4 linked regions of the Homo sapiens genome follow. The protein of the gene in region 1 interacts with the protein of each later gene in a biochemical or structural test. Each region holds a gene or a part of one and is shown in the gene's direction. Other genes may lie near its edges. The genes, in order: PEX26, PEX6, PEX5 and PEX1.

What was found.
Region 2: the proteins of PEX26 (region 1) and PEX6 form a complex in vitro, tested with the Homo sapiens proteins (one study listed by BioGRID).
Region 3: the proteins of PEX26 (region 1) and PEX5 form a complex in vitro, tested with the Homo sapiens proteins (one study listed by BioGRID).
Region 4: the proteins of PEX26 (region 1) and PEX1 form a complex in vitro, tested with the Homo sapiens proteins (one study listed by BioGRID).

Annotation. Positions count from the first base shown.
Region 1 is NC_000022.11:18,073,330-18,081,006, forward strand, and holds the start of PEX26 (peroxisome assembly protein 26), read left to right. Parts: upstream 1-4,660; 5' UTR 4,661-5,047; coding exon 5,048-5,277; intron 5,278-6,544; coding exon 6,545-6,685; intron 6,686-7,677. UniProt on the Homo sapiens protein: Peroxisomal docking factor that anchors PEX1 and PEX6 to peroxisome membranes. PEX26 is therefore required for the formation of the PEX1-PEX6 AAA ATPase complex, a complex that mediates the extraction of the PEX5 receptor from peroxisomal membrane.
Region 2 is NC_000006.12:42,963,344-42,969,191, reverse strand, and holds the end of PEX6 (peroxisome biogenesis factor 6), read left to right. Parts: intron 1-206; coding exon 207-318; intron 319-693; coding exon 694-902; intron 903-1,628; coding exon 1,629-1,824; intron 1,825-2,333; coding exon 2,334-2,410; intron 2,411-2,534; coding exon 2,535-2,667; exon of another isoform or gene 2,668-2,688; intron 2,689-2,744; coding exon 2,745-2,950; intron 2,951-3,086; coding exon 3,087-3,148; intron 3,149-3,402; coding exon 3,403-3,511; intron 3,512-3,823; coding exon 3,824-3,940; intron 3,941-4,039; coding exon 4,040-4,117; intron 4,118-4,262; coding exon 4,263-4,402; intron 4,403-4,720; coding exon 4,721-4,857; 3' UTR 4,858-5,327; downstream 5,328-5,848. Other genes in the region: GNMT (glycine N-methyltransferase), read right to left, coding at 5,486-5,657, 5,743-5,848; CNPY3-GNMT (Glycine N-methyltransferase-like isoform 1 precursor), read right to left, coding at 5,486-5,657, 5,743-5,848. UniProt on the Homo sapiens protein: Component of the PEX1-PEX6 AAA ATPase complex, a protein dislocase complex that mediates the ATP-dependent extraction of the PEX5 receptor from peroxisomal membranes, an essential step for PEX5 recycling.
Region 3 is NC_000012.12:7,206,677-7,211,981, forward strand, and holds the end of PEX5 (peroxisomal biogenesis factor 5), read left to right. Parts: intron 1-982; coding exon 983-1,126; intron 1,127-1,333; coding exon 1,334-1,404; intron 1,405-1,780; coding exon 1,781-1,993; intron 1,994-2,328; coding exon 2,329-2,494; intron 2,495-3,006; coding exon 3,007-3,164; intron 3,165-3,345; coding exon 3,346-3,547; 3' UTR 3,548-4,783; downstream 4,784-5,305.
Region 4 is NC_000007.14:92,511,511-92,518,541, reverse strand, and holds part of PEX1 (peroxisomal ATPase PEX1), read left to right. Parts: intron 1-286; coding exon 287-401; intron 402-499; coding exon 500-1,266; intron 1,267-4,574; coding exon 4,575-4,694; intron 4,695-6,838; coding exon 6,839-6,962; intron 6,963-7,031. UniProt on the Homo sapiens protein: Component of the PEX1-PEX6 AAA ATPase complex, a protein dislocase complex that mediates the ATP-dependent extraction of the PEX5 receptor from peroxisomal membranes, an essential step for PEX5 recycling.

The DNA of each region.
Region 1 (7,677 bases):
GAGCAACACAGAGAGACCCTGTCTTAAATAAATAAATAAATAAATAAACAAATAAATAAAGCACTCAGAAAAGCACCTAGTGCATAGTTAATATCATACCATATAAATTGAGCCATCACTATTATTGTTGTAAAGTACTATACAGGATGATTATGATGGTCACTTCTTAGATACAGAAGCAGAGTTCTGCTGTGTCTACAAGGAGAGGAACACTATAGGAAGCATTGAGTTCTGCCCTGAACTCCTAGTCCAGGCTTTAAAAAAGAGCCATAAAAATGCCATCCCACTGATGAGCCTCTGGAGCAAGGGAGGTGTGCCTTGACCATCCTGGAAAAACATCATCTCCACCCTACCTATACTTATCTCCTTGGCTCGCTTCTGGCCAAAGGTCCACACTTGGTCTGAACCTATTGCATGCAGAGCTTTGCCACAGATGTCCCTGTACTGAGGGGCTCTGGCTGGTTGGGATGTTCGAAGGGACAGCTGTGGATGCTGTTTATTGGCCTGAAATGTGGAACCAGTGTGGAGAAGGCAAGACAGGCTAGGTTGACGTCAGATGTAGGCTTTTCATTTTTATTTTTTGAGAAAGGGTCTTGCTCTGTCACCCAGGCTTGAAGGATTGAGTGCAGTGGCGCATCATAGTTTACTGCAGCCTTGAACTCCTGGGCTCAAGCGATCCTCCTGCCTTAGCCTCTCAAGTAGCTGGGACTATAGGCACGTGCCACCATGACCAGCTAATTAGAAAACATTTTTCAATAGAGATGGGGTCTTGCTATGCTGCCCAGGCTGGTCTCAAAGTCCTAGGCTCAAGTGATCCTCCTGCCTTGGCCTCCCAAAGTGCTAGGATTACAGGCATGAGTCACTGTGCCCAGCCAGATGTGGGCATTTTTGATTTTTGCATGGAAGAGTCAATAATTGGATTCCAGGGCTGGGCACGGTGGCTCACACCTGTAGTCCCAGCACTTTGGGAGGCTGAGGCAGGTGGATGGCTTGAGGTCAGGAGTTTGAGACCAGCCTGGAGAACATGGAGAAATCCTGTCTCTACTAAGAATACAAAAATGAGCTGGGCATGGTGGCATGCAACTGTAATCCCAGCTACTCGGGTGGCTGAGGCAGGAGAATCACTTGAGCCCGGGAGGCAGAGGCTGTGAGTGAGCCGAGATCGCACCACTGCACTCCAGCCTAGGCGACAAAGCGAGACCCTGTCTCAAAAAAAAAAAAAAAAAAAGAATTGGATTCTAGGTCAGAAAGTAATATTACAGAACTTCGGAGTGCTATGAGATTCTTTCTTCTTCTTTTTTTTAAATTGAGGCAGAGTCTTGGTCTGTTGCCCAGGGTGGAGTGCAGTGGCCCAATCTTGGCTCACTGCAACTGCGGAGGCCTCCCAGATTCAAGACATTCTCATGCCTCAGCCTCCTGAACAGCTGGGACTACAGGTGGACACCACCATGCCTGCCTAACTTTTGTACTTTTAGTATAGATGGTTTTTCACCATGTTGGCCAAGCTAGTCTTGAACTCCTGGCCTCAAGTGATCTGCCCACCTCGGCCCCCTAAAGTGCTGGAATTACAGGCATGAGCCACCGCGCTGGGCTGAGATTCTTTCTTCTTTCTTGCCTTACATCAGCCTGAACGAGTCCAGTGATTGACAAGTGTTCAATGGGCTGTCACATGGTTTCTTCTGCTCTTCACAGCCACCCTATGCAGCAGGTGTTAGTATTAGTGTCCTCAGATGAGACAACTGAGGCACAAAGAAGTATGGTGACTTTCTAGAGGTCACCTGGCTTTGTCACTGAAGGAACCAGGATTCTTTTTTATTTTTTAAAAATTTTTATTTATTTTATTTGAGGCAAGGTCTCACTCTGTCGCCCAGGCTGGAGTGTAGTGGTGTATCTCAGCTTACTGCAGCCTCGACCTCCTGGGCTCAACCCATCCTCTCACCTCAGCCTTCTGCGCAGCTGAGACTATAGGCGTGCTCCACCACGCCTGGCTAATTTTTGTAGAGACAGGGTTTCACCATGTTGCCCAGGCTGGTCTTGAATGCCTGAGCTCAAGCAATCCTCCTGCCTTGGCCTCCCAAAGTGCTGGGATTACAGGCATGAACCACTGTGCCCCACCTGAAGGAACCAGGATTCTAGCCATGCCTCTCATCTCCAGTCCAGTGTGCTTTCTGCTACAAAAACAACAACTCATCCCCTGCTACAGCAGGCTGAGCAAATCTGCCTCCTCAGGCAAGGAGCCACACTGAGCCCTCTGCCAAATGGAAGGAACAACCCCAAGTTCCAGAGCCTAGGTAGGGCTAGGGAAGGGGTTGTAACGAGGATACTGGCATCTCAGGTGCTCTGCCAGTTTTCCCAAAATAAAACTATTCAAACAATACAAATATTAATATGGGCCTGGCCTTATACATCTGAAAGGACTGTCCTTATTTCCACTGTGTTTTTTGTCTCAAAGATGAGGAAATGACAGAAGAGATGATTTCAAAGGCTGTCCCATGAGCTCCAACTTAGAGACAGAAGTTTGGCTAAGTAAAGACAATACGCATTTATGTTCCCCCAGAGGGAATGAATTCGCTTCTGTTTAGGATTTCTGTGTCTTCGCTTGAGAAAGTCTAAGTACTTGTAGACATAGAGGAGATGATGTGTCCCACTGGATGTGTGTTGAGGAATCCATTTGTGGGCATAATAGTGCTAAACAGTGGTTACATACGGACTGATATGAAGCCCGGGAATAGTTGAAAATTGGGTGAATCAGAAATGGAATACAATCATATTTTTATATGGTTTCTAGCTCTCCTCTCTCCTGCCTTAAATATCTTGACCTCATTCTGGCTGTCTCACTACTAAATAGGCAAATTTACTTTTAGCAAGGCTGCTTCTGTTAAGACTGTGCCTCCATCTCCTGGACAAATTTGGAATAGCAAGAAATTTGTTAGGAAAGGGACTTTTCCAGGCAGCAGCCGCTTAGAGCTGGCCGCTTCTGAGCATGTTCGTCTTCCCAGGCCTGGCTCACATTTTCAGTGCTTAATGCGCATGGCGCTTTATGCGCAATATTACTTAATTCTTCCCTCAGCCATTGGGAGCTAAGGACAAACTGTTATCCCAATTTTACAGGTGAGGAAATCAGAGCTTATTTAAATAAATTGCCGAGGTCACACAACTAGTAAGCGACAAAATCTCAGTCAAACCGAGGCTCTTTTGGTTCAAAGATGTGTATTGAGCTCTACTCTGCTCTGCAGGGACAGAACTAAGTATGTTTGCTATTCAGGGGATACACAGTCATTCCATGAGCAAGTTACACAATGTAAAATAAGGACATTGTGAAAAACAAAACCATACCGTACATAATGCACTTTATAGTAAAGTACTGGGAACAGAGTATTTGGTAAATTGTAACTATAATAATAATTTTAAACAGATCCACAAATCACACTTATTATTATATTCTGTTTCACCCGGGCTTTGCCAAGCTTCCCACATTTGTACTAGATCCTCTTGGCTTTAGTTTCTCCCCAGTTCTCTACCCTTTGAATTCACTCCAAAGCTTCCCTAGAATCTTTGCTCTCCTAGAAATTAGATTAAACAGGCACCTGCTCACATCATACATCCCCTGCCCTTGTCACCAGACATGCACACATCCATCTTCTGGGATTTCCGTTCTCTTGCAGAAAAGTCTGCATGGGAAGCTGAGGCAGAACCAAGTCCACCAGACTCCGAGGAAAGAGAAGTCTGGACCCTGTAACCAGATAAAAGTGAAACCAGGACTTCATTTATTCCACAAATACTTTTTGACTACCTATAGATGACAGGCACTGTTCAAGGCATTGAGGTTCCCACAGTGAACAAAAGAGACAAAAACGTCTGCCTTTGTGAGTTTATATCATAGTGGAAGGAAATAGACAATAAAAATAAGTAAAATATAGACATTGGTATGTAGATGGTGATAAATGATAAGGAGAAATATAAAGACAGATCGGAAGTGACAACAGTGGGGAAGTGGAATTGGTATCTGCATTTAACGTTGTTTTTTAACAGCAAATTCAGGATGGGGCAGAGAGCAGTGAGAAAAATGAGGCCCTTATGCTCAGCGCCCCCAACCCCGCCTCGGTGGGGTCACTATTCATTTTGGAACATTGCCCTTGGGACCAACATATTCTCAGTGGTCCTTGTGAAGGTTTCCACCCTAAGTCCCTCATCCTCACCAGGCAATATTCATTACCCTACAGCAAACTCCGGAGGCAACGCGGAGAAAGTGTGAATCAATTCAAGACTAAGGTTGCCAAAATGTTTGATCAGCTCTGCGTCAGCCTTGACATTACATTACATTACAGATCCCCTGATCGCCACCGTCGCAGAAGCTCTGAATTAAAAGCGTGCATGTAGCTGCACATCCATTGCTGGCACTTCTTCCGTTAGCCTCCGCTGGAACTGGTTAGTGAGGACCCCTCCATTTCACAAGACAGCTTCGGTTTTGCTTCGTTTTGACTTCCGCACCCCGAAGCTGTAGCACCAGTTTGTTTTCTCACGGCACAGGGGCGGCTTCCGGGGCGCGGCGTGCTGGGGGTTGTAGTCCGCGCTCTGCCTCCTACTTCCATTACAGAAGGCGATGGGCCGAGAGCTGAGGAACTACAACTCCTAGAGTACTCCGCGCCGCCGGGACGCCGCGCGGCTGCGGGGCTGGGCGAGCGCAAAGATGTCCGCGCCCGCTGCCGGGAGGCGAGGTGAGTCTTTGATCGTAACCAGGAGCCCGGAGCTGAGGCAGTTCCTGCACGTGTCGCGGGGCCGGAGAAGCTAGGGCCAGGTATTCCAGGGATGCAAGAATCCTGCAAATCTGACGTGTAAACTGCTTCCCCAGCCTCCAGGCGAGCCCAGCTTTTGCCTCAGATAGGCCCCTTCCTTTTCCTTCTCGGGGAATCGACCTCGGGAAGGGGTGTGGGCAAAGAGATGAGGACTCTCCCTCTTCGCCCAGGCCAACTCGGGATATCCCGGAGCCTCTGGGGAGGCGGTCACTCCGACGTCTGAGGACCTGGGCCTTGGACCCGGACTCGTTATGAAGAGCGATTCTTCGACCTCTGCAGCCCCCCTCAGGGGGCTCGGGGGACCCCTGCGCAGCAGCGAGCCGGTGCGCGCGGTCCCGGCCCGGGCGCCGGCCGTGGACCTTCTGGAGGAGGCGGCCGACCTCCTGGTGGTGCACCTGGACTTCCGGGCGGCGCTGGAGACCTGCGAGCGGGCCTGGCAGAGTCTGGCCAACCACGCCGTGGCAGAGGAACCCGCGGGCACGTACGTGCTGGGCTCGGAAATGAACCGATTTCCGGGCGCTCTTGTGGTGGGGCTCAAGGTCTCAGGAGTTCTGTCCTTCCCAGATTGCCCACAAGGAGCTTTACACCTCGCTTTCATCAGTGGTTTGTCTCCGAGAGGGTGGTCGCTCATCGTGTGCCCATTCTACAGAGAAGGGAAGTCGTGTAACAAAAACTTAGTGGGGATCCCACAGCCAATTATTTGCTCCTTGTTCCAAGGTACAATGACATGATGGGAAGGCTGAATGTGTATTAAGTGCTAAGTTCTGTCAGTAAGCAGGTGGTAAAAGTCCTCTCCCAGGTACCTCCGCCCTCCCCGCCCCGCCCAAGGTTGTTTATTCCTGACCTTGGCTGATGATGGGGAATGGGGGTCATGGCAGGAGCAGCGTTCTGGTCCAATTAGAGGACTGGATTAAAGAATTAATTCAGGGCCGGGAGCTGGGGCTTACGCCTGTAATCCCAGCACTTTGGGAGGCCGAGGCAGGAGGATTGCTTGAGCCCAGGAGTTCGAGACCAGCCTGGGTAACATAATGAGCCCTCTTCTCTACCAAAAAGAAGAAAAAGAAAAGAATCCGGAGAAAAAAACCTTGGGCTTGCATTGCTCTTTCTAATGCCACCAGCCTCGTCTGGCAGGTGAGGGAGTCATTTCTTTGCATTGTAAACTTGGGTTAGGCCACGCTAGGGAGGTGGTAGGTAGAATAGCTAAAGTTGACCACAAAGAAGGATGATCTGGAGAGCCCTGGCTGTGTTTTAGGGGACTGGGTGGGAGCTCATTTCAGTGAATGCAGAAGGCTTTGCTTCTGGGTGTCTGGAGGAACCTTACTAGGTGGTGCCTTTTAGCCAGCTATGGAGTCTATACCTCCACTCAGCCAGAAACCTTGCTCCAAGCCCATTTGTTCACAGAGCAAACTCTTAGTTCCAGCTCTCTTTTCAGCCACACACCGGTGCTGTGTGTTATTTCCCCCTCAGGATTACCCTTCCTCTTCATTTAAATCTGATTTCACCTGGATACAAAGATGAACGTTGAGCAACAGCTGACTTGCCTCTTGAAAGAGGGTTACAGGAACTTTTAGTTCCTGGGGGAAAGGGCAGCCCATGAGACCAATTGTGAAGCCCATCTAAATACTAACAGGGATGAGAGAGATGATGGCTGCTGAGTTGGGAGCTGGAGAGGAACAGTCCCAAGGTGGAGGTGGGAATGGAAATGGAGGGGAACCACTTCTAACTGAAATTGGTTTTTCTGCTGACAGCTCATTGGAGGTGAAGTGCTCCCTGTGTGTTGTGGGGATCCAGGCCCTGGCAGAAATGGATCGGTGGCAAGAAGTCCTCTCCTGGGTCCTTCAGTATTACCAGGTCCCTGAAAAGCTACCCCCCAAAGTCCTGGAGCTGTGGTAAGTCTTCTTTGCTGACTCATCAGATCGGTTCAGAAACGAGAGGATTTTCATCTCCTCTCCTAAATACCTACTCTTTTCCCCTTCCCTACTATTGCCCTCCAGATCGGATTCTTTCCCTTCACTTTTTTTTCCCCAGACTTCCATACATAGCAATAAAGAATAAGGGGGAGGAATTTAGGAGTAGAATAGATATAAAGAAGGGAGGAAACAGGGAATAGGAGCGACGTGGGATGACAGAGTGGACAGAGCTGAAAGAGCAGCTTGCTACGTCCTAGGAATTCCTAATTCTTAAAAAAAAATTTTGTTTTGTTTTGTTTTGTTTTGTTTTTTGAGACGGAGTCTCGCCCTGTCGCCCAGGTTGGAGTGCAGTGGCACAGTCTCTGCTCACTGCAAGCTCCACCTCCCGGGTTCACACCATTCTCCTGCCTCAGCCTCCCGAGTAGCTGGGACTACAGGCGCCTGCCACCACGCCCGGCTAATTTTTTTGTGTTTTAAGTAGAGACAGGGTTTTACCGTGTTAGCCAGGATGGTCTCAATCTCCTGACCTCGTGATCCACCTGCCTCGGCATCCCAAAGTGCTGGGATTACAGATGTGAGCCATCGCCCCTGGCCAAAAAATAACAAAGTTTTTAAAATTGACACTTGTACATATTTATGGGGTAAATTAGACATTTCAATATATGCTGTGTATATGTTGTATAATGATCAAATCAGGGTAGTTAGCATATCCATCACCTCATGCATTTATCATTTGTTTGTGACAGGAACATTCAAAAGCCTCTCTTCCGGCTATTTTATATATACAATACCTTACTGTTAACCATAACCACCCTACCGTGCAATAGAACACCACAACTTATTCCTCCTATCCCACCGTAACTTTGTACCCATTGACGAACCTCTTCCCGTCTTCCTTTTCTTCCTTCCTTTCCCAGTCTCTGGTAACCACCGTTCTACCGTCTGCTTCTATGATATCAACTTTTTTTTTT
Region 2 (5,848 bases), on another chromosome or scaffold:
GATATGCTGGATGCCCCGGCCAGAGCACCGCAGGTGGTGTGGGAGACACAGCCTCACTACATGGGGACAGCCCTGTCCTGGGGTCAGGGAGGCTCAAGGAGAGAAAAACAGGGTATCTGCTTTCTAGATCTAAGGGATCTTGTGTTACTGGGGACTCTAATGTTTGGGCAAAATGAAGGAGACGAATGTCTGTTCTCTGGTTGCAGGGGTGCCCTGCTGACAGGAACTAGCAGTGTCCTTCTACGGGGCCCCCCAGGCTGTGGGAAGACCACAGTAGTTGCTGCTGCCTGTAGTCACCTTGGGCTCCACTTACTGAAGGTGAGGGTCTCTGGAGAGTAGAACCCCAGCTACTTCCCCTCCCCAGCTCATGTTCTCCCTCTCTGCTGCTTCCTCTCCCCTCCCTCCTCTGTCTACTCACAGGCCCTAGCACTTCAGCCCAGTGGGTCAGGCATATTCCCATGATGCTGAGCTATGGAGAGGTACTTTCAAGGAGGAGGGAGTTGCAAGATATTGGTGGACAGTCCAGGGAATGGGATAGGGTAAAAAAGAGGTAGGACTTGGCCAGGGTACCTTCCCTGTCCCTGCCCTCCAGAGAAAAAGATGGCCCACATCTTCCACCTCCTCCTCCCCTGATTCTCCTGCCCTTGTCATGCTTTCCCCTTGCTCACAGACCCATTGGGATCCCCTCCCCAGGTGCCCTGCTCCAGCCTCTGTGCAGAAAGTAGTGGGGCTGTGGAGACAAAACTGCAGGCCATCTTCTCCCGGGCCCGCCGTTGCCGGCCTGCAGTCCTGTTGCTCACAGCTGTGGACCTTCTGGGCCGGGACCGTGATGGGCTGGGTGAGGATGCCCGTGTGATGGCTGTGCTGCGTCACCTCCTCCTCAATGAGGACCCCCTCAACAGGTACTTATACAGAGCTGGGCCTCTCAAAGCTGGGGGGGCCGGCTGGGCGCGGTGGCTCACACTTATAATCCCAGCACATTGGGAGGCCGAGGCAGGTGGATCACCTGCCTTGATCAGGAGTTCAAGACCAGCCTGGCCAACATGGTGAAACCCTGTCTCTACTAAAAATACAAAAATTAGCTGGGTGTGGTGGCGGGTGCCTGTAATCCAGGCTACTTGGGAGGCTGAGGCAGGAGAATCACTTGAGCCCAGGAGGCGGAGGTTGCAGTGAGCCAAAATCATACCATTGCACTCCAGCCTGGGCGACAAGAGCAAGACTCAGTCTTAAAAAAAAAAAAAAAAGGGGGAGCGGGGGGGCCAGCCCTCCTACTTTTCAGCCTTTCAGTCCTCCCTTCTCTCACCCCTCAGTGGCTTCTCAGTCATCTCCCATCCATTTGGCTGCCCTCTAGACAGCCCTGAGCTCCGTGTCTTTAGAGGGATCCAGAGGGAGGAGTCTGTGGTCTAGCATTTCTTGGGGAACACTCGGTTAAAGAAAAAGCCTCTGCCCTCAATGTGATGGGGGAAACACAGTTCCCCCATCTAGGAACTGGGGTAGATGCTCATCTCCCTACCCCATCCTAGCACCCACCTCACTTCCCTGCCCTTCTGTGCCGACTTTGGGACAAGGCAGTCCACAGGAGCTGCCAGCCATGTTCTCACCCTCAGTGCCCACTCCTCTGTCTGCAGCTGCCCTCCCCTCATGGTTGTGGCCACCACAAGCCGGGCCCAGGACCTGCCTGCTGATGTGCAGACAGCATTTCCTCATGAGCTCGAGGTGCCTGCTCTGTCAGAGGGGCAGCGGCTCAGCATCCTGCGGGCCCTCACTGCCCACCTTCCCCTGGGCCAGGAGGTGAACTTGGCACAGCTAGCACGGCGGTGTGCAGTGAGTATCAAGGGAGAGTACTGGCCCTCCCTAGGAGGTCCCTGGCTTTTGTTACAAGAACTCAGTCCTGTTGCCTTGTGAGTGAGAGTAGAAAACCCAGCGCGGGCGCCGTGGCTCACGCCTGTAATCCTAGCACTTTGGGAGGCCGAGGTGGGCGGATCACCTGAGGTTGGGAGTTTGAGACCAGCCTGGCCAACATGGAGAAACCCCGTCTCTACTAAAAATACAAAGTTAGCCAGGTGTGGTGGCACATGCCTGTAATCCCAGCTACTTGGGAGGCTGAGGTGAGATAATCGCTTGAACCCGGGTGGAAGTTGCGGTGAGCCGAGATCGCGCCATTGCACTCCAGCCTGAGCAACAAGAGCAAAACTCCGTCTCAAAAAAAAAAAAAAAAAAAAAACAACAAACCTAAGGCATCAACAGAGGGCCTCTGCTCTAGCTGGGGGACGGTCCCTGAAGGTTCCTGCCTACTGTGCCCTGCTCATGTGTCCTTTCCTGTGGTTCCCTAGGGCTTTGTGGTAGGGGATCTCTATGCCCTTCTGACCCACAGCAGCCGGGCAGCCTGCACCAGGATCAAGAACTCAGGGTAAGAGGACGTGGGCACCGGAAAGGCGGAAAGAGGAAATGGATGTAGATGGGTGGGTGGTGAGGAAGGGAGAAGGGAATGGGACGCTGATGGTGAGGAGGCTTCCCTGTGTTCCTCTTTGCAGTTTGGCAGGTGGCTTGACTGAGGAGGATGAGGGGGAGCTGTGTGCTGCCGGCTTTCCTCTCCTGGCTGAGGACTTTGGGCAGGCACTGGAGCAACTGCAGACAGCTCACTCCCAGGCCGTTGGAGCCCCCAAGGTGGAGACCAAGTCCTTGGAGGTGGGACAGGAGCCCCTCCAAGAGCATATCCCAACCACGCACTTTCCATCTCCTAGATCCCCTCAGTGTCCTGGCATGATGTGGGTGGGCTGCAGGAGGTGAAGAAGGAGATCCTGGAGACCATTCAGCTCCCCCTGGAGCACCCTGAGCTACTGAGCCTGGGCCTGAGACGCTCAGGCCTTCTGCTCCATGGGCCCCCTGGCACCGGCAAGACCCTTCTGGCCAAGGCAGTAGCCACTGAGTGCAGCCTTACCTTCCTCAGGTGGCCAGGGGGCCTGGAAGGGATGGTGGGTGGATCAGGGGCTGCAGCAGGCTGGGGAGCAGGAGGGGCTGCCCAAGAGGTCAATTGTGTGTATGTGCATCTGACGGCTCTCACCTTCTCACATCCTCTCACTCAGCGTGAAGGGGCCAGAGCTCATTAACATGTATGTGGGCCAAAGTGAGGAGAATGTGCGGGAAGGTGAGTGAGCAGGGAGGGGCAGGGCGTCCCATGCTTCCCAAACCCCGATGGCCCCCAAGCCACCCCCTACTCCCAGGCTACTCATGATCATTCCTAATCCTCCTTTCTACAAGTCAGGTTCCTGCCCAGCTGGGTCTAGTACCTGGGATGCCAGTGCTGTATTGTCAGGCCCCAGTTTCCCTCCCTGCTCTCACCTAACTTCAACCCCCCACAAGCCGAGCTTTGCCCTCCTGTGGGCCCCTCTCTCTCTTCAGTGTTTGCCAGGGCCAGGGCTGCAGCTCCATGCATTATCTTCTTTGATGAACTGGACTCTTTGGCCCCAAGCCGGGGGCGAAGTGGAGATTCTGGAGGAGTGATGGACAGGTAGGGGTCTGAGTGGGAATGAAAGCTGAGGGGTCCAGGGTGGGAAGGATATGAGAAAGCTCACAGCAGTCTTCAGAGTCCAGAGATAGAAGTTCCTGCTGTTTCAGTTCTGAGATAATATAATGGAAGCTGAAAGGGGCCATGAAATTGGGCAGGGTCCACTGAGGAGAATGGGGGCCTACCTGGTGGGGCACATTGGGCACAGCTGAGTGGAGGGCCCTGTTGAGACTGCCTGTAAAGAGAGGTACCACAGGCAGGGGCAGAGTCTAAGGGGGACACCAAGGACTCTTGCCCTTGCTCCCTTCTCTCCAGGGTGGTGTCTCAGCTCCTTGCCGAGCTAGATGGGCTGCACAGCACTCAGGATGTGTTTGTGATTGGAGCCACCAACAGACCAGATCTCCTGGACCCTGCCCTTCTGCGGCCTGGCAGGTGGGCCCCTTGTACTGCTCATCTCCACCCTCATTTTGTGCCTCCTTCACCCCTCATGGCTGGGCTCCCTGAAACTTATACCTGCCTATCTCCCTAAAGATTTGACAAGCTGGTGTTTGTGGGGGCAAATGAGGACCGGGCCTCCCAGCTACGCGTTCTAAGTGCCATCACACGCAAGTATGCTCTGTTAGAGGAAGACTGCGAAGGGCTTGGGCCTTGGGATGCTTAGGGGATGCATGCAACATGCAGGATGAGCTGGTCAGCACTGGCTTTCGAGGGAGGAGGTGATGCCAACTCTGTTTCTTCCTGTATCCCACAACAGATTCAAGCTAGAGCCATCTGTGAGCCTGGTAAACGTGCTAGATTGCTGCCCTCCCCAGCTGACGGGCGCGGACCTCTACTCTCTCTGCTCTGATGCTATGACAGCTGCCCTCAAACGCAGGGTTCATGACCTGGAGGAAGGTGAGCCACTTGCCGGTCTGAGAGGTCAACCAAAAAGCTAGTGGGGAGCTGGGTGCACCTGAGTCCCAGCTACTTGAGAGGCTGAGGTGGGAGGATCGCTTGAGCCCAGGAGTTTGAGGCCAGCCTGGGCAACACAGAGAGACCCCAACTCTAAAAAAAATGTTTAAGGGAAAAAAAAAACTAGTGGGAGACAAACCTAGTCCTGGATTCCAGAGGGAAGATCATTGACATCTAGGAGACCCTGAGCAGGAAGCCACCTTCGCAGGGCTCTCCCCTGCCTGGGCATAGACCACAGCCTCCCCACCTTGTCATCTCCAGGGCTGGAGCCAGGTAGCTCAGCACTGATGCTCACCATGGAGGACTTGCTGCAGGCTGCCGCCCGGCTGCAACCCTCAGTCAGTGAGCAGGAGCTGCTCCGGTACAAGCGCATCCAGCGCAAGTTTGCTGCCTGCTAGGAGCCCCCCAGGGTCTGGGACCCCGCTCAGCATGGCTGCAGGTACCTTGATAGCCCACAGAGAGATCTGGGAAGGAAGGGCTCCTCCTCAGGCTGCTGCCAACCCACCTGGAGGCCACCTCCCTCCAGGAGATCCCAGGGTGCAAAGTGGCATTGAGACAGCAGCAACAGCTCAAGAGATATCTCCTGCCTACTTGCCCCTCCTTCCAGGCCGGCTCTAAGAGAAAGGCCCATCTACTCAGGAAGAGGGCCAGGGCCTTGGGTTCTGGGGATTGGGCCCTGAGAGGGCTAGTTCTGTGGCTGAAAATAAAGCATGTCCCGCCCCCTACTGGTGTTGTGGCATGAAAGGTTGGAGTGAGAAAGAGCAGGGTTGTGGGAGGAGTAAGCCCTGGGAGAGGGTGGGGGGGTGGGCAGCATGGGAGCCTGATCCTTCTGACATAAATAAACACAATGCATGCAGGAACTGAAAAAGACTATATTGTTTACCCTTCCGTCTGTGGAACCCACATCCCTGCACCCCAGCTGTAGTCTGCTCTAGAGGCTGGCCCTGGTGTGGGGCTGCTGGTCCCCATCTTCCAGACAGAGCCTAGCAGTGCCTGGGCAGAGGCTTGTGGGAGCTGAGGCCACACTCAGTCTGTCCTCTTGAGCACGTGGATGAAGTAGCAGGGAATGTAGGTTTGGCCTGGCTTGTAAGGCTTGAAGTCGCCCAGGACGCTGTGCTGGCACTTACCTCCGAAGGCTGCTTGGAGCAGCTCCGTGAAGGATGCCAGACAGTGTGGGTAGTAGGAGAGCCGGAACTTACTGTAACAGAGGCCCCAGCAACCATGAGGACTGGTGACCTCAGCTCCCCCAACTACCGCCTCACCCCCACTAAGCCAAGTGGTACCTCAAGCCAGGAGAGCCATCCTGGCCAGCCCCCGGCACCTGCACCGTATAGTCCAGGGTCACCATGTGGGCCTTGTTGTTCACTATCAGCACTGATGTTGTGACGT
Region 3 (5,305 bases), on another chromosome or scaffold:
TAAGATTTAAGTGTTTTTGATTCTTTATCATTTTCACAATAATAATGAAAAAGGGCCTCATGTCTTTATTTTGTACAGTTTTATCTGAATTTATTCTTAACTGCATTTAGAAAGACCTCCACCTGTTGTTTTGCATCTTGTTTTCGTTCTGGTGTATTATTTTATGATGGTAACTACTCTCCAAAAACGGACTTTTTATTTGCATGTCCCAGATTTTGCAGCTTACTAGTGACTTCCCCTTTACCTCATTTCTTCTCTGCCTAGTGTAAAATGCCAGTTGACAAAGCTTTGCAGATAGTATCGTAACTCTTCTCTAAAGTGAGAAATCCTCAGCTGGAAGAGAATGGTGTCTTTCTGAAGTATTCTCTGCCATCTGGATTTTGGGATCCAGCTTTTGCTTACTGTCAGATACAGATTAATATTCATGATTATTAAGAATGAAATCGGGGAATAAATTAACATTTTCAAAATGCTTGAAAATGTTTTATCTAGTTGACATGTGGAATGACTCTGAGCTAAGTAAGAGTTATATTTGAATAGCAGGACTCCAAACAACATTTCCTTTATACATCATCACATTATTGAAGGATAACAAGAAATGCACTTTGCATAGCTAGGGACACTTTGTCTCATTACTATAAGCAGATCCTGTTGAGACATTCTGCCCCGTGGTGAGAAGTCAAGGTGTGGGAATACAAGCCTGTGATGACTTCCTAAAATAAGCTTATTTCCAGCGCAGATGAATTTGTAGACTTTCCTAGCTTCCCAGGTATCATGAACAGGAGATGGGAGCACAAACCTGATACCAAATGATTTTACTTGTGTCATACATGATCTTTATAATATGGAGAATTTGCCAGCAATTAATTCCGGAACCTGTTTGGAGGCCCTCAGCTTCTCTGCCTGCTGGTTGTCATCCTCACATCCCTGCTGTTCTGACGGTGCCACCTCTCAGTCCATCTCTCACGTGCTTTTCTTGTAGGGGTACCAGTTTGAGGAGGAGAACCCCTTGCGTGATCACCCTCAGCCTTTTGAAGAAGGGCTGCGGCGCCTTCAGGAGGGGGACCTGCCAAATGCTGTGCTGCTTTTTGAGGCAGCTGTGCAGCAGGATCCTAAGCACATGGAAGTGAGTGACTCCATAGTCTCATTTCTGGCTAGAGACTGCTTCCTCCATCTTGAGAAAGGCCCCAAGGAGAGTAGTGCAGATGGGTTAGGGCCTGGGTGATGGCCTAGGATAGGGGCTTGAGAGCGAGATGGTGAGTGGGAGAAGCCAGGGGGAAGGGCGAATGGAGAGGTGAATATGGGGTGATGGAATCTGTCAACTTCCCTCTAGGCTTGGCAGTATCTGGGTACCACCCAGGCAGAGAATGAACAAGAACTATTAGCCATCAGTGCATTGCGGAGGTGAGTACACTGAAAGGTGTGGGTGAGGTGCTTCCAAGGCTCTGCATATAACCTTTTGAATGACAGAAGCCCAGACCTGGATCCTTGTCTTCTTTCTGAGTGCTATCAAGAGTGTTTTCTCATGCTGAAACTCTGAGGGTTGGAGTGAATTCCATTCCTTCATCGGCTTTTGATTTTATTTGCGGCTTTGGTTGGCTCCTTGCCTGCTAAAACCTTCCCCTTAGATCTGTAACTTTATTATTAACTCATGTCAGAGGAGTCACAGGTGAGGCCATTGTGACTCTGCATTTCAAAGCTTGGCTTGGATCCCAGGGTGCTCACATGTGCCAGTGTCAGTCATTGCAGATATCAAGTCTGCCCATCCCTGATCAAACAGGTGTCTGGAGCTAAAGCCAGATAACCAGACAGCACTGATGGCGCTGGCTGTGAGCTTCACCAACGAGTCCCTGCAGCGACAGGCCTGTGAAACCCTACGAGACTGGCTGCGGTACACACCAGCCTATGCCCATCTGGTGACACCTGCTGAAGAAGGGGCTGGTGGGGCAGGACTGGGCCCCAGCAAGCGTATCCTGGGATCTCTCTTGTCTGAGTGAGTATGAGGGGTTCCTAGGATGAGGAATTACAGTAACCTAAGTCCCAGTAGGAGGGTGACCTTGGTTTTGGAAGTTTGGATGGATTGAGACTGAAGGGTCCTGAGAATGGGATGGGAAACCTAGGATCAAGTTGAAGGAGGTCTGCATTCTACAGTTCAGTGCTAGGATGAAATAGAAAAACAGGCTTCTATATTGGACTTTGAGAGTAGAAGAGATGACTGATAGATTGATGAATGTTGGGGATATGGTTGATCAATGAAGAAATTAATTTGGGGGGATGGGAATAGAGACATTCATCTACCTACTTTGTGTTTTTTTCCTTTTCATCCAGCTCCCTGTTTCTTGAAGTGAAAGAGCTCTTCCTGGCAGCTGTGCGGCTGGACCCTACCTCCATTGACCCTGATGTGCAGTGTGGCTTGGGAGTCCTTTTCAACCTGAGTGGGGAGTATGACAAGGCCGTGGACTGCTTCACAGCTGCCCTCAGCGTTCGTCCCAATGTGAGCCCAGGGGAGGAATGGAAATGGGACATGACTGTGTACCTTATTGAAGAGCCATTTGTTGGGAAGCTGGGTTTGATGGTGCATGCCTGTAGTCCCAGCTACTTGGGAGGCTGAAGTGGGAGGATCACTTGAGCCTGGGAGTTCAAATCCAGCCTGGGCAACATAGCAAGACCCTGCCCACCCCCACAAAAAAGAATAATTTGTTCAGACTTTTGGAGTCTTGGGGTATTTCATTCCAGTGTTCCATGTACTGACTGCCTTGGGAGGACTGGGAAAAGAAGGCTGGGAGTGTAGGGTCATCTGGACATAAGAGAGTCTGCATAGGGTGAGAGGGGCTACATTGTAGCCACACACCGAACTGTTGAGAATGGAATGGGACGAAACATGTTAGCTAACAGAGTAGTGAAACAGCTGGAGTAATGTGCAGAGTTTGAGCTGAGTCGGTGGAGTAATGTGCAGAGTTTGAGCTGAGTCAAGCTGTTCCCATCCGTTCTGCATCCCTATCCCAGGACTATTTGCTGTGGAATAAGCTAGGCGCCACCCTGGCCAATGGAAACCAGAGTGAAGAAGCAGTAGCTGCGTACCGCCGGGCCCTCGAGCTCCAGCCTGGCTATATCCGGTCCCGCTATAACCTGGGCATCAGCTGCATCAACCTCGGGGCTCACCGGTGAGAGTATCTATTGAGAAATGAATGAATGAGCTTTTTCTCCCTGCCTTTGGCCCTAGCTCCTTATTCTTAGATCCTGTTTGACTAACCAGCCCTAGCTTTCTCCCTCCCACTGCTAGCTGACCTGCTTCCTTCCATTGTTGTTCAGCTTAACAGCTCTCATTCCTCTTCTTCCTTACAGGGAGGCTGTGGAGCACTTTCTGGAGGCCCTGAACATGCAGAGGAAAAGCCGGGGCCCCCGGGGTGAAGGAGGTGCCATGTCGGAGAACATCTGGAGCACCCTGCGTTTGGCATTGTCTATGTTAGGCCAGAGCGATGCCTATGGGGCAGCCGACGCGCGGGATCTGTCCACCCTCCTAACTATGTTTGGCCTGCCCCAGTGACAGTGGGACGGGCTGCCCTGTGAGTGTCCACCTGGAGGGATCCCCGCTTTGGATGTGATTCCCTCTCCCCAAATGGGCCTACCAAGGGGGCGGGCTGATGACCATAAGCGGTACGGCCTTTCAGGAGCTGCCTCAACGTAGGGGTGGGTAGTCTGTGTTCTAGTTCCTACATAATTGTAGGAAAATGAGCTGTGTCATCTCTGAGTCCCTTGGTAATTCAAGGGCTGTACATCCAGCTACAGATCTCTCTGCTCATCATGCCCTTTCTTGGTGCTGCTTTTTGGGTAGGACCCCACGATTTAGGGTAACTGTTATCATCAGCTGCCATTTCTGATAGGGTCTACCACATCTGTAATGTCTGTCCTTTCCCCCACTTTTACTGGGAATTGATAGTCCAGCTTCCTTGGGCAGTGTAAGTAGGAGGTTCATCTGCTGTGCGCCTCTAATGTCTGTCTGGATGGGATGTGTTAGGAGTTGGCCTGTTGGGTTGAATTGTTGATTTGGCTGAGCAGAGCTGAGTTTTGGTAGGAGTGCTCATGGTTCTGTCATTCTTGGACCTCTCCTGGCTGAGCTCTGATTCCCTGTGAGCACGATGCTGATGCAATAGTCCTGTGTCATCACTGCAGCGGTCCTCAGGAGCTGCCAGGGCCAATTGCTACAGAGTGTCTGGGTGTGTGGCATAGGAGGAAGGTTTGCTTGTGAAATGAGGCTGGGTGGGAGCGGGGAGGGACTAGATCAGAAGAGATCAAGGGCTCTATTCAGGAACGTTGGTGGGAGGACAGAGCAAGTGGGAAGGGGGTATGGTGAGTGCGGCAATCCCTCATCCTCTTAGAAGCACCTGTGAATGGGAATTGAGCCAACTGTTATAGAAAATTGGTTCAGAAAGTGCAATCTTGCCAGATTTCTAGCAAATAGGTTCAGTGTTACCATAAGCCTTTGCTGTACTTCTTGAAATGTTTCTAGGGGAGAGCATTGGAAAATCCCCTTCCCCCATCTAGATCGAAGGAAGATGAGGGAGCAGCTTGGATTCTTCTCAGTTGTCCCCTGCATGGGGAGATACACTAACCCCCAGAAATGACTGCTAAGCCTCTTGCCTTGTCTTTAGTAGCTAATGATCAGAGAGATTTTTTTTTTAAACTACCATGGTCCCAGGATTCCATCCTGAAATTTATTTTTCTTTGTATGAATATGTGTAAATGATTTAAAAATAAAACTGTAAAATATTTGTACGAAGAATAAATGGAACTGATGTGGGTATGAGTTCTGCTGGTCATGAAGCTGGGATGGCAGAAGGTGAGTTGGCGTTTGGAGGACTGGGATTCAACAGTTTCTGCCTTTCAAATTCTCACTGGTATATTGGTTACCTGCTCATCCCTCTAAAAATGATAGAGCACAGGAGACAGGGTCCCTGTTCTCTGGGCCTCTGGGCTAGCAGGAGAAAGAGATGTCGATAATCATGAATTTTTACTCCTGTTACTACTACAAAGGAAAGTGTGCAGTGCCATATAATTGTTAGGTTGTTTTGTATTATGAATTACATGGAAGGATTTTGATAGTTTTTCAGTGCTTAGGGTTTCTAAAGCTTTTCATCTGGCTCTGCCTGCCTTTATCGGGAACTGTATCAAGTGCCATATCAAGATGGGTATTTATCCTGAGGAAAAATTTAAAAATATACACAAATATTTATACTTGGAGATAGATGTTTGTGGGCACATTAGACTTGGAAAAAAAATTTTTTTTTTTTTGTTTTTTTTTTTT
Region 4 (7,031 bases), on another chromosome or scaffold:
AACTATAGGTAATAAAATTGTATTGGGGATTCATGTTAAATGAGTAGATTTTAACTACTCTTACCACAAAAACACAAAAGTGGGTAACTGTGAGATGATGTATATGTTAATTTACTTCACTATAGTAACCATTATACTATCTATATGTAGCTCATAACACCATGTCGTGTATATTAAATATGCACATTAAAATTTGTTTTTTAAAAAAAGAATTGAGATTTTTTTTAACTAGATATGGAGTGGACAAAATGTAAAGTGAATTGATCTTTTCGTCTGTTGGTTCTAGGAGCTGCATGCTGTTTCCCTTGAACAACATCTTCTAGATCAAATTCGAATAGTTTTTCCAAAAGCCATTTTTCCTGTTTGGGTTGATCAACAAACGTACATATTTATCCAAATTGGTAGGTGCTATTGTAATATTTGCTGTCATATTCTACACTATAGCATTGAGTCCAAAGTAGAAATGAATGTGCACTAATGAGCTTTATTTTCTACACAGTTGCACTAATACCAGCTGCCTCTTATGGAAGGCTGGAAACTGACACCAAACTCCTTATTCAGCCAAAGACACGCCGAGCCAAAGAGAATACATTTTCAAAAGCTGATGCTGAATATAAAAAACTTCATAGTTATGGAAGAGACCAGAAAGGAATGATGAAAGAACTTCAAACCAAGCAACTTCAGTCAAATACTGTGGGAATCACTGAATCTAATGAAAACGAGTCAGAGATTCCAGTTGACTCATCATCAGTAGCAAGTTTATGGACTATGATAGGAAGCATTTTTTCCTTTCAATCTGAGAAGAAACAAGAGACATCTTGGGGTTTAACTGAAATCAATGCATTCAAAAATATGCAGTCAAAGGTTGTTCCTCTAGACAATATTTTCAGAGTATGCAAATCTCAACCTCCTAGTATATATAACGCGTCAGCAACCTCTGTTTTTCATAAACACTGTGCCATTCATGTATTTCCATGGGACCAGGAATATTTTGATGTAGAGCCCAGCTTTACTGTGACATATGGAAAGCTAGTTAAGCTACTTTCTCCAAAGCAACAGCAAAGTAAAACAAAACAAAATGTGTTATCACCTGAAAAAGAGAAGCAGATGTCAGAGCCACTAGATCAAAAAAAAATTAGGTCAGATCATAATGAAGAAGATGAGAAGGCCTGTGTGCTACAAGTAGTCTGGAATGGACTTGAAGAATTGAACAATGCCATCAAATATACCAAAAATGTAGAAGTTCTCCATCTTGGGAAAGTCTGGGTTAGTATAAATTTTATAACTTGGGAGAAATTTTATGTGGCTTAAACATCCCCAAATTATGAATTAGAATAGTATTTCATATATAAATTGAAAATCAATTAAAAAGAAACACAGTGCCTAAAGGCACTTGGGGGACACATTTACGCTTTGCAGTAAAGTCCTTGTTTGGATAAAGATTGTATGTTTTCTGGCCAAGTAAGCTTGAATAGGTACAAGCTTAGATAGGTTCAGGCCAGAGAGGTCAAAATTACTTGCCTGAGATTGCATAGCTAGTGTTACAACTAGGATTCAAACCCAGGCAGATTGACTTGGGGGTTCATCAGGATGGAGTGCCCTACAAAGCCTCCCATCTTTAATGCTTGCAGATTTGTTCCCCAGTTACCGAAAGCAACTTGTTAATATTAGGGAAAAGGGCCAGTGTAGGGAGAGATCCATGGCATGAGGTAACCTTCCTGCTGCATGTGGTGGCACCTGGATTGGAATGCATCCAGGAGCTGCTTACCCTGCCGGTGTCTGCTCTTTAATTTGTGTATAACGGAGAGGAAGTAGACAGGGCAACTAGTGCTCCAGCCCCTCATCCTGGCCACAAATATTAATGCTACCTTTATATGACATAAGTCACTAGTCCATTTATTGGAACCTAAATTTGAACCACTGTAAAGTAAGACTTCATAGTGATAAAGAGAGGAACTTGTTAGGAAAGAGAATAAAATAGAAAGAGAAGGTTGTCTCCTTTTGTAGATTTTTTTTTTTTCTCCAACAGTTTTACCTGTGACCTTTATACAAATAACTGACAAAGCATTAATCTCTTTGGCCTACATCATTTTCTTTTCTATTTTTTTTTTCCACAAGATGGAGTTTCACTCTTCTTGCCCAAGCTGGAGTGCAGTGGCATGATCTGGCTCACTGCAACCTCCGCCTCCCACGTTCAAGTGGTTCTCCTGCCTCAGCCTCCTGAGTAGCTGGGACTACAGGCATGCACCACCACGCCTGGCTAATTTTTTGTATTTTTAGTAGAAACTGGGTTTCACCATGTTAGCCAGCCTGGTCTGGAACTCCTGACCTCAGGTGATCTGCCTGCCTCGGCCTCCCAAAGTGCTGGGATTACAGGCATGAGCCACTGCTCCTGGCCGGCCTACATCATTTTCTAAAGCTCCAGACCATTCTTTTCTTTTCTTTTCTTTTCTTTTCTTTTCTTTTCTTTTCTTTTCTTTTCTTTTTTCTCTTCTCTTCTCTTCTCTTCTCTTCTCTTCTCTTCTCTTCTCTTTTCTTTTCTTTTTTTGAGTTAGAAGCTTGCTTTGTTGCCCAGGCTGGAGTGCAGTGGCACCACCTCCACTCACTACAACCTCCACCTCCCAGGTTCAAATGATTCTCCTGCCTCAGCCTTCAGAGTAGCTGGGACTACAAGTGTGCGCCACCACTCCTGGCTAATTTTTGTATTTTTAGTAGGGACGAGGTTTCACCATGTTGGCCAGGCTAGTCTTGAACTCCTGGTCTCAAGTGATCCGCCTGCCTCAGTCTCCCAAGGTGCTGGGATTACAGGCGTGAGCCACTGTGCCTGGCCTCAGATCATTATTTTCTGTTAGCTTTAAACTGTCCGTTCAGGAGATCCCACTGCATCCTCAAATTCAAAATATCTAACACTGAGCTTATGATTTAGCTGGTTCTGTCATTAGATGGGAATATCCTTTTATTTCCTTGAAATTATATGGTGAGAACAGGGAGAAGTGCTGATGGTAAAGTCCTGTGATTAAGATAGCAATAAGGACTCCGCCCTTCCCACTCCACTGAAGGTTGAAGAGCCATGGACAATGAGAAGTCACAGTAGGTGAAATCAGGTACTAAAATGGACTTGGCTTGAGAGATCAAAATTGATCACTTGGTGATACAACTAACAAATTCATGTTAACTTGAACCTTTATTACCCTGTGAAGCATGGTGATTAAAAAAAAACAACAAACAAACAGGAAACTTGATTGTTAAATTCTCTTTAAGTCAGAATATGTACCTTAGAGTTTTTATTTATGCTTTTGTCTACCATTAATATGTCTGCACCTGCTCTTTAGAAGTTAATAGAGAGTAAAGTCGTCTTTATGTCTTTCAGTGCTTACTTATATTTGGGAAGTTGAGAAAAATTTTTAACATCATTATTGATATATATATATATATATATATATATATATATATATATATATATATATATATATAGATAATTTTTTTTTTTTTCTTGAGACGGAGTCTCACTCTGTCGCCCAGGCCGGAGTGTGGTGGCGATCTCCACTCAATGCAAGCTCTGCCTCCCAGGTTCAAGCGATTCTCTTGCCTCAGCCTCCCGAGTAGCTAGGATACAGGCTCCCACCACCACGCCTGGCTAATTTTTGTAGTTTTAGTAGAGACGAGGTTTCACCATATTGGCCACGCTGGTCTCAAACTCCTGACCTTGTGATCCGCCCACCTCGGCCTCCCAAAGTGCTGGGATTACAGGCGTGAGCCACTGCGCCCGGCTGAGGTAAAATTTAAAGTGTACAATTCAGTCATTTTTAGTATATTTATACTAGTTGTACAGCCATCACCACAATCTAAGTTTAGAACATTTTCATTAGGGGGTGGGAGAAATTTTACTCTGCTTTTTAGATTAAGTTTCTGTCTGGATCTAATCATTTAATCAGACAATCAGGCAGATTGTCTGTGATTAGTTTTGGCCATTCCAGCTTCTTCATTGGTTGTTAACTTTCACAAATAAAGGCTGCTCAAAGATTAGAAATAACATTTAATTTGAATGTAAATGTGCCATAGTTTAAAAGATGGGTTTGGTGAATACAGTCAAATACATACATTTAAAGCTCTAATTCTGAAGATTATGTAAAGAAAAGGAAAGAAATGTAGGGAGAGGATTGAAATGTTCATGGTATAACAATATCTGAACATCCATCTGGTCACACCGTTGGTATTTGAATGTTTTGTCCTCCTCAAATTCATATGTCGAAATCCCAACTCCCAAGGTGATCGTATTAGGAGGTGTGGTCTTTGGGAAGTGATTAGGTCATGAAGGTGAAGCCTTCATGAATGGGATTCGTGCTCTTATAAAAGAGAACTGTGAGAAATAAGTTTCTGTCGTTTGTTAGCCACCCAGTTTAGGATATTTTGATATAGCAGCCTGCATGGACTGAGACAACTATGAGTTATTATGATAGCTTCTGTTATTTCACCTAAATTCATAGAAGCTAATATATCAATATTTATGCTATGAAATATTTCTTAACCAAGCTTTGAATATATTTATATTTTTGTTTATTTTTAAATTTCAGATTCCAGATGACCTGAGGAAGAGACTAAATATAGAAATGCATGCCGTAGTCAGGATAACTCCAGTGGAAGTTACCCCTAAAATTCCAAGATCTCTAAAGTTACAACCTAGAGAGAATTTAGTGAGTTCAAATATATATGTTACATCAAAATTCTTTTACACGTTTTGTAAGATTTCTAGTTGCTTTAGCTAAGTAATAAGAATGTTGTATTCCTTTTTGATACAAATCTTTTTTTATTGTGTTAAACTATATATAACATAAAATATGCCATGTTCGCCATTTTTAAGTGTATAATTCAAAGGCATTAATTACATTCATAATATTGTACAACCATCACCACTATCTATATCCAGAACTTTTCCATCACCCCAAAGAGAAACTTGGTACCCATTAAACAATAATTCCCCGTCCACTCCTTTCCCCAGTCCCTGGTAATCTCTAATGTATATTGTGTCTCTATGAATTTACTTATTCTAGATATTTCATATATAAGTAGAAGTATGCATTTGTCTTATGTATCTGACTTATTTCATTTAACATAATGTTTTCAAGGCTCATCTGTGTTGTATGTATCAGAATGTTATTCCTTTTCATGGCTGAATACTATTCCATTGACTGCATATACCACATTTGTTTATCCATTCATCTGTTGATGGACACTTGGGTTGTTTCCACATTTTTGGCTGCTGTGAATAATGCTACAGTGAACATTGGTGTACAAGTATCTGTTTGAGTTCCTCTTTTCAGCTCCTTTGGGATATACCTAGGAATTATGTTTAACTTTTTGAGAAGCTGAGAAATCTTTAATAAATGATAACACAAATACTTATATTTGCCAATGCAAATATGAATATTTTTGGCTTTTAAGAGATTGATCATTTTGCCACGTGGTTGTAATTAAAAAAAATTGTCCCATGTTGTTTCAGTATTAATATTGTAGCCTAAAAGAGTGCTAGACTGTTTTACTTTTTACTCAGTTAATTCTTTGGATACTGGTAGAGTCAGGAAATGAGATATTGAACTTAAAGATCTTTGCAGGTGGGGTCCAGTGGCTCACACCTGTAATCCTAGCACTTTGGGAAGCTGAGGTGGGAGGATTGCTTGAGGCCAAGAGTTTGAGAATAGCCTGGGCAACATAGCAAGACCCCATCTCTACAAAAAAATTAAAAAAAAAATTAAGCCAGGCGTGGTAGCTCACGCCTGTTATCCCAACACTTCGGGAGGCTGAGATGGGTGGATCACTTGAGGTCAGGAGTTGGAGACCAGCCTGGCCAACATGGTGAAACCCCATCTCTACTAAAAATACCAAAATTATCGGGGCGTGGTGCTAATCCTGTAATCTCAGCTACTCAGGAGGCTGAGGCAGGAGAACCACTTGAACTGAGGAGGTGGAAGTTGCAGTGAGCCTAGATCTCACCACTGCACTCCAGCCTGGGTAACAGAGCGAGACTCTATTTCAAAAAAAGTAAAAATAAAAATTAGACACATGTGGTGGCACATGCCTGTAGTCCTAGCTACTCAGGAGGCTGACTGAAGTGGGAGGATCTCTTGAGCCCAGGAGTTCCACACTGCAGTGAGCTATGATTGTGCCACTGCACTCCAGCCTAGGCAATATCTCAAAAAAAATTTTTTTAAATAGATTATTAGGCCAGACGTGGTGGCTCATGCCAGTAATCCCAGCACTTTGGAAGGCCAAGGCAGGCGGATCACCTGAGGCCAGGAGTTTGAGACCAGCCTGGCCAACATGGTGAAACCCCATGTCTACCAAAAATACAAAAATTAGCTGCAATGTCTATAATCCCAGCTACTTGGGAGCCTGAGGCAAGCGAATCGCTTGAACCCGGGAGGCAGAGGTTGCAGTGAGTGGAGACTGCGCCACTGCACTCCAGCCTGGGCGATACAGCGAGATTCTGTCTCAAAGAAAAAGGAATTTGTTTTCCTGTCTTTATCGTAGAGGGAGGAAAGGGAGAATGGGGTTGGAATGGTTATTGAGTGAGCCACATTATGGTAGATGTATCACTGGGCATAGAGAAAAGGAGCATTTAAAACTTTTCCGCCTAACAGATGTTTCTTCAGGCTACACTGCACTCATTGTGCTAACTGTAATGTCAAATCCCAGACCTGTGCCTATAGAACATGAACATCCTTCATTGGATTTGTTTGGTCAGGCTTACACTTTATTAGGAAGATCAGATGTTAAAATAAGGGTGTTAAAGTTAAGTTCAGATATGAGGATAATTCATTACTATTCCTTTTTCTGGCAGCCTAAAGACATAAGTGAAGAAGACATAAAAACTGTATTTTATTCATGGCTACAGCAGTCTACTACCACCATGCTTCCTTTGGTAATATCAGAGGAAGAATTTATTAAGCTGGAAACTAAAGATGGTGAGTACATTTGTTATTTTGACTTTTTTTTCTATTTAAATAGTTGTACATTTTTAATTGTTCTTGCAA